Linked DNA regions of Homo sapiens. The protein of the gene in region 2 interacts with the protein of the main gene of each other region in a biochemical or structural test. Each region holds a gene or a part of one and is shown on either strand. Other genes may lie near its edges.

Region 1 (6,912 bases), on a different chromosome or scaffold from region 2:
TCTGTTGCCCAGGCTGGTCTCAAACTCCTGGGCTCAATCGATCCACCCACCCTGGCCTCCCAAAGTGCTGGAATTATAGGTGTGAGCCACCATGCCCAGCCCCCAGGGGCTATTTTATGTTTTTTGTTTGTTTTTGTTTTTGAGTTGGAGTCTTGCTCTGTCACCAGGCTAGAGTGCAGTAGCGTGATCTCAGCTCAGTGCAACCTCTGCCTCCTGGGTTCAAGTGATTCCTCTGCTTCAGCCTCCCAAATAGCTGGGATTACAGGCACATGCCACCACACCCGGCTAATTTTTTGTATTTTAGTAGAGACGGGGTTTCACCATGATGGCCATGATGGTCTCAATCTCCTGACCTTGTGATCCACCCGCCTTGGCCTCCCAAAGTGCTGGGATTACAGGTGTGAGCCACCATGCTCAGCCTATGTTGTTTTTCATTTTATTTTATTTTTTTGAGACGGAGTCTCACTCTGTTGCCAGGCTGGAGTGCAGTGGCATGAGATCGGCTCACTGCAACCTCCGCCTCCTGGGTTCAAGCGATTCTCCTGTCTCAGCCTCCCGAGTAGCTGGGATTACAGGTGCCTGCCACCACGCCTGGCTAATATTTGTATTTTTAGTAGAGATGGGGCTTCACTATCTTGGCCAGGCTGGTCTTGAACTCCTGACCTTGTGATCCACCTGCCTCGGCCTCCCAAAGTGCTGGGACTACAGGCATGAGCCACTGCGCCCAGCCTGTTATTTTTTTTTTTTTTTTTGAGACAGTCTCACTGTGTCGCCCAGGTTGGAGTGCAGTGGCATGATCTTGGCTCACTGCAACTTCTGTCTCCCAGGTTTAAGCGATTCTCCTGCCTCAGCCTCCTCAGTAGCTGGGACTACAGGTGCGCACCACTACGCCCAGCTAATTGTTTTACTTTTTTTTTTTTTTTTTTTTGAGATGGAGTCTCCCCTCTGTCGCCCAGGCTGGAGTGTGGTGGCTCCGTCTAAGCTCACTACAACCTCTGCCTCCCAGGTTCAAGCGATTCTCCTGCCTCAGCCTCCTGAGTAGCTGGGATTACAGGCACGCGCCACCACACCTGGCTAATTTTTTTGTGTGTGTTTAGTAGAGACAGGGTTTCAGCATGTTGGTCAGGCTGGTTTCGAACTCCTGACCTTGTGATCCACCTGCCTCAGCCTCCCAAAGTGCTGGGATTACAGGCGTGAGCCACCGTGCCCAGCCATTTTTTTACTTTTTAGTAGTGATGGGTTTCACCATATTGGCCAGGCTGATCTCAAACTCCTGACCTTGCGATCCACCTGCCTTAGCTTCCCAAAGTGCTGGGATTACAGGCGAGAGCCACCGTGCCCAGCCCCCAGGGACTATTTTAACTTAAAATTTAAAATTAAATAAAAATTCAGTTCCTCAGATACGTTAGCCAAATCTGAAGTGGTGAGGAACCACGTGTCTCCTGGTGGCTGAATCGGGCAGTGCTGACATAGCACATTTCCATCATCGTGGAGAATCCCCTTGGGCGGCACTGCTTTGGAGTCCCTGCAAGGCCTGTGGGGATGGCGGCCCAGTGGCATGCCTTCCAGTCCTGCCACTCCCAGCCAAGACATCACTAGTCTATCATGGTGTGTTTTCTTGCCATGCCAGGTTGGGCGGCACACTAGTAATCACCTAGAATGGGAGCCAGGGGGAAACCCGTTCGCTGTCCCTGTGCACCGTGTTCAGGGCAGCTGCTGCCAGTGGAATGCTGGGATAACCCCAGTGTCGGGGGTCCTGGGGCAGCCTGTGTACTGCTGGATGCTTGCTTTCAAGTACTCTGCTGGGGTAAGACTCTGGGGCAGTTTCCATCCCTTCCTTGGGCTTCAGCTTGCTGGACTGGCCCTGAGAACTGGGAGGGGATGGCTTCATGAAGTCATTTTGATGGGGGATGAAGATAGTTGCTGTAGAGGAAGAGGATGAGAGAGCTGCTTGGCCTCTGGAAGGTGGGAGGAGCTGTCGCAGGCTGCACAGGGGCTCTGAGGTCGAGTTCGTTTAGTTCATTGATTAAGCAGTCTACCAGGTGGCCAGCAAGGCTTTGTGGGTGCTTGGGATGCATTTAAGGGAACTAAACAAAGGTGCTTGTGCAGCCGACCTGCTTGCCAGGCAATGCAGATAACAGATAAGTCCATCTGCCTGCAGTAGACGGTGAGGAAGTGCTGCCGAAGAAGAAAAAGCAGAGGCGGGCCAAGGGGTTGGGGAGTTGTGAGTGGGGTTCGATTGCGATTTTAAGTAGCCAGGGTCTCTAGAGTCTTACTGAGAAGGTGAGATTTAAGCAAAGACTCAAAGGAGGTGAGGAAGTTGACCAAGTGGGTGACTGGGGAGCATCTGGGCAGAGAGAAGAGCCAGGGCGCTGGGGTAGGAGGATCCTGGGGGCGTGACAGGCAGCAAGGAGGCACATGCCTGATCCAGGTGGCCAGACGACACCCTGGGAGAGAAGCAGGCAAGGGGAGGGCTGCCTGCGCCTTGATAGGCCTCCCGGGCCCTTTCTCTGAATGGGGAAGCACTGGGGATACGTGAGCCAAGAGGTACTGAGGTCTGACTTAAAGGTCCTTCTGGCTCCTGAACTGAAACCTGTGGGGGAGGCAGTCACGGAGCGGGGAGACCAGATGGGCAGCTCCCCTGGCTACCTGGGAGAAGCTGTTGCCAGCCTTGGTGGGCCAGTGGAGTCAGGTGAGGATCTGGCCATGGGTTTGAAGCTCTGGGAAGACTGAGTTGCTTCTCCAATAGTCAGGACCCAAGATCTGTTTCTGCCTTCAGACAGAATGCGGTCAGCTGGGCCTCCCTGTCGGCCTCTGTGCTGGCCAGATCCATGGCAGCCTCTTAGGACCTGTGTGAGCTTCTTGCCACTGCACTCTCCCTTGCAGAGTCTCCATGCTGGGGGAGGCTTCTGGGCTTGTCCCTGCACCTTAACCAGCCGGTGTCACCTGAGAACACTTGTTCCCCTTAGAAGGGACCCAGAGGGGGCCCTGGGTGAGGGAGAGATGGGAAACCCTCTCAGCCCCCCCACCCCTGTGGCTTCTCCTGGCAGGAAACATACTGGGGAGAAACCCTTTGAGTGTCCCAAATGTGGGAAGTGTTACTTTCGGAAGGAGAACCTCCTGGAGCATGAAGCCCGGAATTGCATGAACCGCTCGGAACAGGTACTTGGGAGCTGGCCCAGGTACTTGTGGGCAGGGCACACTGGCCTCTCTGTCTTCGTGCCATCCGGGAAGGGCCCCAGGAGACTGTCTGAGAGGGGTACTGTAAACTCAGGAAAGCTGTGGGGTCCTTGGATGTCATGAGGTCCATGCCCTGGTACAGGTGGGGACACAGGTCCTGAGGGCGGAAGGGACAGGCATAGGAGGGACTCTGTGGGAGGCATTTGGGGTTGGCTTTCCTAGGCCCCTGGCCCACCTCCACCTTGGCTTTGGAGAAGGGGAGCCGCTACAGGGGATGGCAGCTGGGAAAGGCCCCCTGGCCACCCCCAGCAACCCCACTGCTGGCTTCTGTGTCAGGGCCCGCCGAAACCCAGGCCCACTCTTCCTAGAGGCCTGTCAGCAGCCACTAGGGCCAGGGACTGTGGGTGAGGCCACTCGGACCCTGCCCCCAGTCTGTCTGGGCCTGAGAAGGGCCTGGTGTGCGGTGGGCTTGCAGCACTCAGTGATGGTCAGGCCAGGCAGGTTATGTGTTGCCCTCTCCCACCCTAGCGTCCCCACCCTCCCCAGGCAGACTCTTCCCAGCAGCAAGCGGAAGCCCGGGCAGAGGCTGCTGTCATAGGCAGAGGCCCCCGCTGATGCCGGCCCTGCTTGCCCCTCACACTGCCAGGTCTTCACGTGCTCTGTGTGCCAGGAGACATTCCGCCGAAGGATGGAGCTGCGGGTGCACATGGTGTCTCACACAGGGGAGATGCCCTACAAGGTCAGGCTTGGCCTGTCTCCAGGGCCAGGGTTGGGTGGCCCCAGGATCCTTCCTGCTGAGCCCTTTACGTGGGGTGCTGTCAGGCACCTCCCTCACAGTAGCTGTCAGGGAGCCTGCCTTCCCTGCCTTCCCTGCCTTTCCAGTGCCCCCTTATCTAGGCAGGGCTACTGTCTGCAGCCTCACCTCCAAGGTCCTTATTAGGCCCTTGTTTCTTTCCATGGAGGACAGGCTTGGCATCCTCTGGGCAGCTGAGCCCTGAGGGCCCTCCTTTGCACCATCCTTCACACCAGATCAGGGGTCCTCCCAGAATCATCTCACCGGGGCCTCCCTCTAGTTCCTGCCCTATAGCCCAAGGGTGGGTGGCAGGGTTTCATGGGTGCAGGCCGCCCTGGAGGTGACTGTGGGCCTCTTTTTCAGTGTTCCTCCTGCTCCCAGCAGTTCATGCAGAAGAAGGACTTGCAGAGCCACATGATCAAACTTCATGGAGCCCCCAAGCCCCATGCAGTAAGTGACAGGGAGGGCTGGGCATGCTTTGATGCTGGCATGAGCAAGAGTGAGCTGTGCCCAGAGTGGGCAGCCGGCCATGTACTTTCTGTTGTTCGGGGGGGTGCTTGTGGGTCTCCCAGGCAGCCCTTCCCTGCTCTCACCCTGGCCCTGGTCCCTCCCTCTGCCTGCCTGGTCTGCCTGCAGTGCCCCACCTGTGCCAAGTGCTTCCTGTCTCGGACAGAGCTGCAGCTGCATGAAGCTTTCAAGCACCGTGGTGAGAAGCTGTTTGTGTGTGAGGAGTGTGGGCACCGGGCCTCGAGCCGGAATGGCCTGCAGATGCACATCAAGGCCAAGCACAGGTGCGTGTCGCCCGTTCTCTCTTGGGGCCCAGTCCTGCTGCCAGCCCAGGCTTGCACCGGCAGGGAAGACAGAGTTTGCTGACTTTTACACAGATGAGTGTGCCCTTGGCCTCCACCCTGAATCTAGTGCCTACAGCCTCTCTGGGATAGTGGGACCTGAGGGGCAAGCAGCTATGCCAGGCAGAGAGGCTGGGGGCAGATGTTTCAGGCTCAGACAAGCCTCTGTGCCCCCGGGGCAGATTCTGAGCTTCCTTAGTTTCCTGTGACTCCTGCTCATAGATTGTCCTTCTGCTCTCGGGGTGGAGGTGGTGCCCCTTTCCTAGCACTGCCCAAGCCCTCTTTCCACCAGGCATGCTCCTAGCTGTAGCAGAGCAAGGGGGTCACTTCCCTTGGTGATGGCCTCTGCCCCATGTCCCCACCTTAACAGGAATGAGAGGCCACACGTATGTGAGTTCTGCAGCCACGCCTTCACCCAAAAGGCCAATCTCAACATGCACCTGCGCACACACACGGGTGAGAAGCCCTTCCAGTGCCACCTCTGTGGCAAGACCTTCCGAACCCAAGGTGAGGTACGCCCTGCCCCTCCCCTCGCCTCCCCATCCTGAGGCCAAGGCCACAGGCTGAGCTCTTGCCTTGTGCCTGCAGCCAGCCTGGACAAGCACAACCGCACCCACACCGGGGAAAGGCCCTTCAGTTGCGAGTTCTGTGAACAGCGCTTCACTGAGAAGGGGCCCCTCCTGAGGCACGTGGCCAGCCGCCATCAGGAGGGCCGGCCCCACTTCTGCCAGATATGCGGCAAGACCTTCAAAGGTACCTGGGCGGCCCTGGGAGAGCCATTTCCTGCTCATCCGAGTTGGAGGGTCTCTGAGGAGGAAACGCTCCTTTCTTGCCTGTGAACCTCTTTTGTGCCCCACATGGTTAGAGTTGAGAGTGGACCTGCTTTGAAGGCAGGGGTGTCCTGTGCAGTAGTGACCCTGGGTGGCACTGGAGAGCCTGGCAGGGCCTGTGCAGCACTTGTAAACCACTGGTCCCCTCCCTTGCTGCCTGTCCCAACCTCCTGCTGGGTTTCCTCGAGGGTCCCGGGGCTCCTGCATGATCCCCCACGGTGTTCTCCCTCTTGCAGCCGTGGAGCAACTGCGTGTGCACGTCAGACGGCACAAGGGGGTGAGGAAGTTTGAGTGCACCGAGTGTGGCTACAAGTTTACCCGACAGGTAGGCCAGGGCCTGGGCCCCTTCCCCTACCCTAGGATCCCCCAAAGTTCTGAGCTCACCCTCCCCGCCAGGCCCACCTGCGGAGGCACATGGAGATCCACGACCGGGTAGAGAACTACAACCCGCGGCAGCGCAAGCTCCGCAACCTGATCATCGAGGACGAGAAGATGGTGGTGGTGGCGCTGCAGCCGCCTGCAGAGCTGGAGGTGGGCTCGGCGGAGGTCATTGTGGAGTCCCTGGCCCAGGGCGGCCTGGCCTCCCAGCTCCCCGGCCAGAGACTGTGTGCAGAGGAGAGCTTCACCGGCCCAGGTGTCCTGGAGCCCTCCCTCATCATCACAGCTGCTGTCCCCGAGGACTGTGACACATAGCCCATTCTGGCCACCAGAGCCCACTTGGCCCCACCCCTCAATAAACCGTGTGGCTTTGGACTCTCGTATTTCAGCCTGACAGTCTGTTCCCGTGTCCTGGAGTTGGGGAAGTGCTGCCTTCCCACCCACGCCTTCAGGAGAGAGTAGTGCCCTGCCCGGTCCTATGTGGGCCTCAGCTCAGCTGGCAGCTTCCCCTCCTGTCAGGAAACCTCAGCTGAGCGAGGCTTGGATGGGGTTCCTTTGGGGGCCAAACCTCTGGCCTTGGCTGCTCTCCACATCTGTATTCTGTTCCTCATTACTGCAGGATTTTAGAGTGGGGAACGCTGGCCAGTTAGAGCACCAGTATTCCTATTTTAGAGCTGAGGTGATACCGGCTTCTGGAGATAGAATTCATTACTAAGCTTCTGGAGTTCAGTAGAGTGATCAGGGCCCACGGGGCTGGCCTTGTTGGGCAGAATCAAGGATTGGGCCCAGTTAGTGTAGCTGAGCACGCCTGGGGGTCTGAGGAGGGTGGGGCCCTTCCTTCAAGCAGCCTGGTCTGTGTCCAGGAGGCTTTGGTCCCCACGTT
Region 2 (7,174 bases):
GGCGCGGTGGCTCATGCCTGTAATCCCAGCAATTTGGGAGGCCAAGGTGGGTGGATCACAAGGTCAGGGATTTGAGACCAGCTTGGCCAATATGGTGAAACTCCATCTCCAGTAAAAATACAAAAATTAGCTGTGCATGGTGGCGTGCACCTGTAGTCCCAGCTACTTGGGAGGCTGAGGCACAAGAATTGCTTGAACCCGGGAGGTGAAGGTTGCAGTGAGCTGAGATCGCGGCACTGCACTCCAGCCTGGGCAACAGAGGGAGACTCCGTATCAAAATAAATAAATAAATAAAAATAAAATAAAATATTACATGACTTCACAGCACAGTCTAGTCAACGTAACTGAAACTCAAGTCCCCCCAGCCACTCCCTTTGTGTCTTTGCTAAGTTACTCCTCCTCCCTGGTCCCCTGTCTACATCTATCCACCAAGGATAATAACCCTGGCTACGGCCGGGCCCGGTGGCTCACGCCTGTAATCCCAGCACTTTGGGAGGCCGAGGTGGGCGGATCATCTGAGGTCGGGAGTTCAAGACCAGCCTGAATAACATGGAGAAACCCCGTCTCTACTAAAAATACAAAATTAGAGGCCGGGCACGGTGGCTTATGCCTGTAATCCCAGCACTTTGGGAGGCCGAGGCGGGCGGATCATGAGGTCAGGAGTTTGAGACTAGCCTTGCCCACATAGTGAAACCCCATCTCTATAAAAACGCAAAATTAGCTGGGCATGGTGGTGCGCGGCTGTAATCCCAGCTACTCAGGAGGCTGAGGCAGGAGAATCGCTTGAACCAGGGAGGCGGAGGTTGCAGTGAGCCGAGATCGTGCCATTGCACTCCAGCCTGGGCAATAGTGTGAGACTTGTCTCAAAAAAAAAAAAAAAAAAAATTAGCCGGATGTGGTGGCGTATGCCTGTAATCCCAGCTACTTGGGAGGTTGAGGCAGGAAAATCGCTTGAACCTGAGAGGCAGAGGTTGTGGTGAGCCGAGATCGTGCCATTACACTCCAGCCTGGGCAATAAGAGTGAACCTCTGTCTCACAAACAAATAAACAAACAAACAAACAGACAAACAGAAAACCCCTGGCTACACAGAGACAAAAATAATAGGCGTGACTCAAACATTAATAATATAATCACACCTATCATGTAATGAAGACCTCCCTGGTGCAGGGGTTGTGCTGTCTCAGCGTTCCATGCACCGTCTCATTTCTCCCTTGTCACAACACTAGGAAGTTGCATCGATTCTTCTCTCCAAAGGAGTCTGAGGATCAGAGAGGTTAAGCAACCTGCCCAAGATCACACAGCAACCCAATCTTTTATACTTTATTAGGTTTTCAATAGTATCAACTCGGGTTTTTTTTTTTTTTTTTTTTTTTTGGTTGGGGGAGGAAAAAGGAAGTGAAGGGCAGAGGTCAGGAGGAAGCTTTGGGTCCCCTTCGTTCTGTTTTCATGACAGGGGCGGGGGGCGTGGTTTGGGGTGTGCCACATCCTGGCACTTCCTGAAGGACCTCCCTTTGGTCCCCCTGGCAGCGTCCAGAGACACGCGAATGCTGGACTTAACATCCTTGCTCCTTGTCCATCTCTGGGCCTCAGTTTCCCCAACTGTATGGTGGAAATTGTAGTCTCTGCTTCTTCTCAGGGCTGCGATGAGGATTAGGGTCCATGCCCGTCTCACAGAGGAGCCCCTGCCCCTCTGAGTCAGGTTCTCACCATGGAGAATCCGAGTGGGGCTTTCTCGATCCTTTTCCTGCAGGATCGGATCTGAGGCTGGTGGTACAAGAGGGGAAACTGAGTCACCTGCTGCTCCTGGTGTGGGGGAAGTTAGACCATGTAGAGCTTAGAGCCTGGGCGTCTCGCTGGCACGATGGTTCATTCCTGTCATCTCAGCACTGTGGGAGGCTCAGGTGGGAGGAACACTGAAGCCCAGGAGTTTGAGACCTGGGAAACATAGCAAGACCCCCCCACGGCCCCACCAAATCTCTATTAAAAAAACAAAAAACAAAACAAACAAACAAAAAAAACCAAGGCCAGCCACGGTGGCTCACGCCTGTAATCCCAGCCCTTTGGGAGGCCAAGGTGGTTGGATCACCTGAAGTCAAGAGTTTGAGACCAGGCTTGCCAACATGGCAAAACTCTGTATCTACTAAAAATACAAAAAAAAAAAAAAAAATTAGCCGGGCGTGGTGGCAGGTGCCTGTAATCCCAGCTACTCAGGAGGCTGAGGCAGGGGAATCGCTTGAACCCGGGAGGCGGAGATTGCAGTAAGCCAAGATCGTGCCATTGCACTCCAGGCTGGGCGACAGAGCAAGTCTGTCTAAAACAAAAAACAAAAAAACAAAACAAAAAAAAACGTCTGGGCATCATTTGCAGAAATCCAAACACAACAGTGGGATCTGGGAAGAATCGTGCTTCAGCGTGGCCTCCTGGTCCCGAGGCTGATGGCCGGTGGTTGAAGGAAGAAGGATTTCTATCCCAGGCAGGGTCCTTGGAGCAAAGTCCCTGGATGACACCCTCGCCCTAGATCCACGCGGCCCCTCCCTGGGTCCCTTCCCACCTACCCGGCTGGTTTCAGGCTGCGAGTCCTGAGACAGTCCACTTCCCCTCCGGGGGGCCCTCCCGGGTTTCCCCTCGTAGCCAGATTATTATTACAAAAGCCAATCCAACCCGTTTGGGTGTTGAAAGGCGCTTTTAATAAATTGTGCGAAGAAGCCATAAACTGTGTCTCTCGCAGGAGAGGCTTTGAAGTCAGAGGACAGGCTGGGTACACTACACCCAGGCCGGTGGTGGTTCCCGCTGTCAGGTGGTGTTGGTACTAAGAATGCCAGATAATAATAAAACATAATAATGACCCTGGGATTAGGTGTTAGAATGAAGGCACAGTGAGCCCCGGAACAGGGTCACCCACTGGATAAGCGCTCACTAAACGGCAGCTAAAGCAGCTGTCAGTACTCTCTCTGTCTGGAGGAATGAGGAAGGGGAAACTGAGTCCTGGAGCCCTCCCCCCCCCCCCCAGGCGCGCGGTCGCACCAGCCAGCCCTCCCCGGGCCGGGCCAGGACGTTCTCACCACTCGTGCCCTGCTCCCCCTTCCCTGTCCCCCGCCGGACCTCTCCCACGACCGGGGAGGAAGTGGGAGAAACGGACAGGGGAAAAAAAAAAGTCGCGCTGAACCAACGCCTCCCCACTCCCCACCTCCGCCCCTCGCGAGCCATGCAGACCCCCTTGTGCCAAGGAGCGGCCCGCGCGGACCAGGCGTCCAGGGCCCGGTCCCCGTCCCGCCCCGCGGCCCGCAGCCGGGTGGGGGAACTCGCGAAGCCGGGAAAACAACCGCCCTCCCCGCCCCTCGCCAACCCCTTCCCCCGCTGACGCCCCTAGCGCAGCGGGGTGGAGGCGACTCCTTTATATAATCGCGGGAGGGCAGGTTGGTGGTTTCATTTAGGGACCCGGGAGCCCCGCGGACCCGGGCTGTCCTTGGCAAGGCCACCCCCCGGGGTCCCTGGCGCGGCAAGTCCCACTGAGGCCCGGGGAGGCCCAGGGCCTGGCCTTGCGGGGGGATCCCCACCGCCTCACCCCCAACCCACCCCCGGCAGCCCAGGCCGCGCGACCCACACGCCCGCGTCGCTCCTCGCTGTGCGCACCGCGCTCCCCGCCCCCGCTGCCATCCTGCCACGCCCCGGGCGTCGGGGGCACAGCCCGCGCCCCCCCGCACCCCGCCCCTGCGCAGAGGCTGGGGGCCTGTTTATCTGGAGGCCCCCACCCCCCCTCCACCCCGGGGGGCCCGCTCCCCCCGCGCCCCGGGGAGCTCTGGGGCCAGATAAGCTGGCAAGCTGGCACGGCGCCGCGCGGCGGGGCGGAGAGGTCAGAGGCGGGGGGGCGCGCCGGGGCGGGCCGGACCCCCCCCCCCGACTTGACAAAACCTAATAACAGCCCGGTCTCCCCGGCGCAGCGGGCGAAGCCCCACGGGAGGGCAGAGACGTGGCAAGAGGGGACCTGCCGAGCCTGTTCTGGCCTCCGAGGCCAGGCTGGGGGGGGCGGGCTGGGCGTGGGGGGGCCGGCGGCTGCGGCACCTTTAAGACAAGGGAGGACCCCTCTTGCCCTCGGAGAAACCAGGAAGGGAGTCGCGAGCATCATACGGGGCTTTGGCTGTACTGTACAGTTACTGTAGGGGCAGTGACGCCGCCGCCGCCGCGCGAGGGAGCGACCAGGGCAGCGCGACGCGGGCAGAGCGAGCGCCGCGGACCCCGGAGGCGAGCGGCCGAGGGAGCCCAGTCCCAACTTCGGGCCCCGGCCCCGCGCGCCCCGGCCCGGCCCCGCGAGGTAAGTCAGCGCCCGGCGCGGCCCCCGGCACGGGGTGCAGGGCGGGGACGGGCGGGGGTCGCTGCGGCCACCGCTGCCCCCTCGGGAAGGGGAGATCCGGGGAGCCGGGGACGTTCCCCCAAGTTTCAGAGGAAGGGGTGGTTGGCAGCTGCCCGGAGGCTGGAGGCGCCCTGGATCCCGAGCGCGGGGAGGGGGCGCCGCCCGGGAAGGGGGGATTGGGGGCTAAGTGCATGAGCTTGTGCGCCAGCCCCCCCCAACCCGGGTGCATGGCTTTTCGGGGCTCCCAGGCGCGCGGGGAGCGGGGGAGGGGAAGCAGGGCTGCATTGAGGGTGGGGGGAGCCGGCGTGGGGAGATAGGGGGGCGCGTCGCCTGCTAAGTTTCCAGCTGAAGACGAGGGGCGCTCTCGCCCCCCGGGGGCCTATTCGGTGCTGCGTGCATACGTTGGAGTTGGCCAGGATTGAGCTCCATGGGGGATGGGGGGGAGGGGGCTGAAAAAACAGGGAGGGGGGCTTCGGAAAGGAGGGGGAAGGGGTGGGGTGTCCGGGTGGGCGGGCAGGGCCGCAGGGACCTCTGGGCTTCGTAGTCCCTCCGCCGTTTGCAGCCGGCAGGTGGCAAGCGGCTTGGACTACAAGTCCCAGGGTGCCCCGCGCCGACAGCCCGCCGCGGCCTGCGGGTAGGGGCGGTGCGGAGGAGGGGCGGTGAGCGGCGGGCCGGAGAGCCAATGGGCGCGGGCCGATCGCGCGGCGCGGCGCGGGGGCGGGGCCAGCCCGCCAGGGGGCGGGGCCTGGAGCCGGGCTCCCCTCGCCGGGGGCCGGTGGCGGTCCCGGCTTCCGGCTGCGCGGCCCGCGGGCCGGCCCCCTCCCCGCCCCGGGGCCCCTCCCCGCCTGGTTGTGTAACCGTCCCCAGCCCCCCTCCCCTCGGCCCCCCGCCCGTGGGGGGGGGGTCACCCTCCCCGCGCTCCCCGGGGAGGGCGGCGGCCCGGGCGGCCGCGCGGTGCAGGCGAGCCCGGGGATGCGCGGCCTAGCGCAGGCCGGGCCCGGGCGTGGGGGAGGCGGGCGGGCGGACCCAGATCCGGGGTAATTTGCATCGCCCTCCCCCCAGCCCGGGTGGGGATTGGCCGCCGGCGGCGGGGGGTGGCGCGGGGCCAGGCTCACTGCCGCCTCCCGGCCCCTCGGAGGGAGCCAGCCCAGCCGCAGCCGCCGCCACCGCCGCCGCCGGGGCCGGGCCCCCTCGCCGCTGCCCCGGGAAGGAGGTAGGAGCCCCCCGCGCGGGCGAGGCGGCGGGGGACCGCGGGCCGGGCGGGGGCCGCGCGCTGCGGCCGGGGCGGGGGAGGGGGCCGCTTCCTGCCCCCGCCCGGGCCTGACTCAGCCCCGGGTGGGGGGCCTGGCCTGGCCCCTCGCCCTGCCCGGACGGCCGTCCGGCTCCGACCCGCGGGAGGGGGCGGAGAGAGCACCCCAGTCCCCGCCGTCCGCGCCCCCAAAGCGCGTGACCCCGTCTCCTCTGGCCCGGACCCCCCCTCCTTTCCCTTGACGCCACCACCACGTGCGAAGCCTGAGCCCGGGCAGGGGAGGGGGGAGCTGGTGGGATCCAGCCCCCTCCCTCCCGCTCCCTACCTCCCGGGCGGGAGACCCAGCCCCCCCGGCCTGGGAGCCTGGCTGGGGGCTGAGCGGAGCGGAGGAGCGGGTGCCCCCCCAGGGACCGGGCCTCTGCGGGTTCTGGGAGGCGCTGCCCGGGCTGGCTGGCGGGGGCGCACGGTGGGCCGCGGCGGGAGGTTGCTGTCCACCCGGGCCCGGACACCCAGTCGGCGCCCACTAAATGTTGGCGGAATGCAGCCAGGAGTTGGCGGCGAGGCGGGGGGAGGCAGCAACTCCTCTCCCCCCAGTCAGGCGGCGGAAGTCACAGAGGTGCTGGTGCCCCTGCCACCCGCGGCACCCACCTGGCTCACCCATGGGTGGCGGGCTCGGTGGGCCCCCCCACCTCCCTGCCAGCTGCCTCCGGAGAGGGCGTGGGGATTCCGTGTCAGTGCCCCCCGCCCCAACCTCAGAACTGGACCAGGGCGTAACCCTGAGCGTGCCGCTCCCACACTGGGGGTGCCTCCCCACCACCGGCCGATCACTTCCTATTGGCAAACTGGTCTGGGAGAGGTCCCGGGGAGGCCAGGCTGGGGCAGGGGCCCAGGCCAGGCCAGGCCTAAGCCCAGCCCTGCTGCTGCCAGGGCCTGAGGGCTTCAGGCCGGGGGCGTTTGTCCGCGAGGGCCACCCGCCATGGGGCCCCGAGAGCACCTATCGGCGGGGCCGGGGCCTCTGTTTACCACCAGCCATCGCTGTGGAGACAGAGCTTGGGGGAGAAGGGGGGGCAGGAGCCGGCCGCTGGAAAAGCGAAGTCTAAGGAAGGAAAGAAGAGCCAACCGGGACACTGAAATTTTAATTCGTGGGTCAGTCCGGGGGGTATTTATTATTCAGTTCCGATTGGCTGCGTGGCGGCCAGTCAGCACCTGGGCCCGGGCGGGCAGCCACGCATCGGCAGAGGCCCGCGGGCGGCCGCAGGCAGTGGATGGGTCCTTTGCTCTGTGCGGGAGACTGAGGCGCGGCCGAGGCAGAGCCCAGCCTGGGGCCTGGTCGGAAAGGTTCCTGGGGCGATCACAAATCCCTGCTGGGTGTTTGTTTGTTTGTTTGTTTTTTCCTTTTCTTTCCTTGAGTCCCTCTGACCTATAGCTGGGTCCACCTGGTGGCAGATCCCCGTTGCCATATGAGGAGGAAACCAAGGCCGGGAGGGGAGGTCAAATGTGAGCCTGGAAACTCCGGAGGTTAGAGCAAGCCTCGGAGCAGGTGCCGGTACTAGGCAGGGGAGACTGAAGCGTA

Evidence for each region. Proteins that work in one complex are often made in the same cells at the same time.
Region 1: the proteins of ZBTB7A (region 2) and ZBTB48 form a complex in vitro, tested with the Homo sapiens proteins (one study listed by BioGRID).

The regions. Positions count from the first base shown.
Region 1 is NC_000001.11:6,582,869-6,589,780, forward strand, and holds the end of ZBTB48 (zinc finger and BTB domain-containing protein 48), read left to right. Parts: intron 1-3,050; coding exon 3,051-3,162; intron 3,163-3,708; coding exon of another isoform or gene 3,709-3,795; exon of another isoform or gene 3,796-3,826; coding exon 3,827-3,919; intron 3,920-4,336; coding exon 4,337-4,423; intron 4,424-4,609; coding exon 4,610-4,764; intron 4,765-5,191; coding exon 5,192-5,328; intron 5,329-5,409; coding exon 5,410-5,574; intron 5,575-5,887; coding exon 5,888-5,976; intron 5,977-6,047; coding exon 6,048-6,344; 3' UTR 6,345-6,412; downstream 6,413-6,912. UniProt on the Homo sapiens protein: Plays a critical role in transcriptional regulation and chromatin remodeling. Acts as a regulator of telomere length. Directly binds the telomeric double-stranded 5'-TTAGGG-3' repeat.
Region 2 is NC_000019.10:4,063,821-4,070,994, reverse strand, and holds the start of ZBTB7A (zinc finger and BTB domain-containing protein 7A), read left to right. Parts: upstream 1-4,095; 5' UTR 4,096-4,313; intron 4,314-5,465; exon of another isoform or gene 5,466-5,565; intron 5,566-5,713; exon of another isoform or gene 5,714-6,747; intron 6,748-7,174. UniProt on the Homo sapiens protein: Transcription factor that represses the transcription of a wide range of genes involved in cell proliferation and differentiation.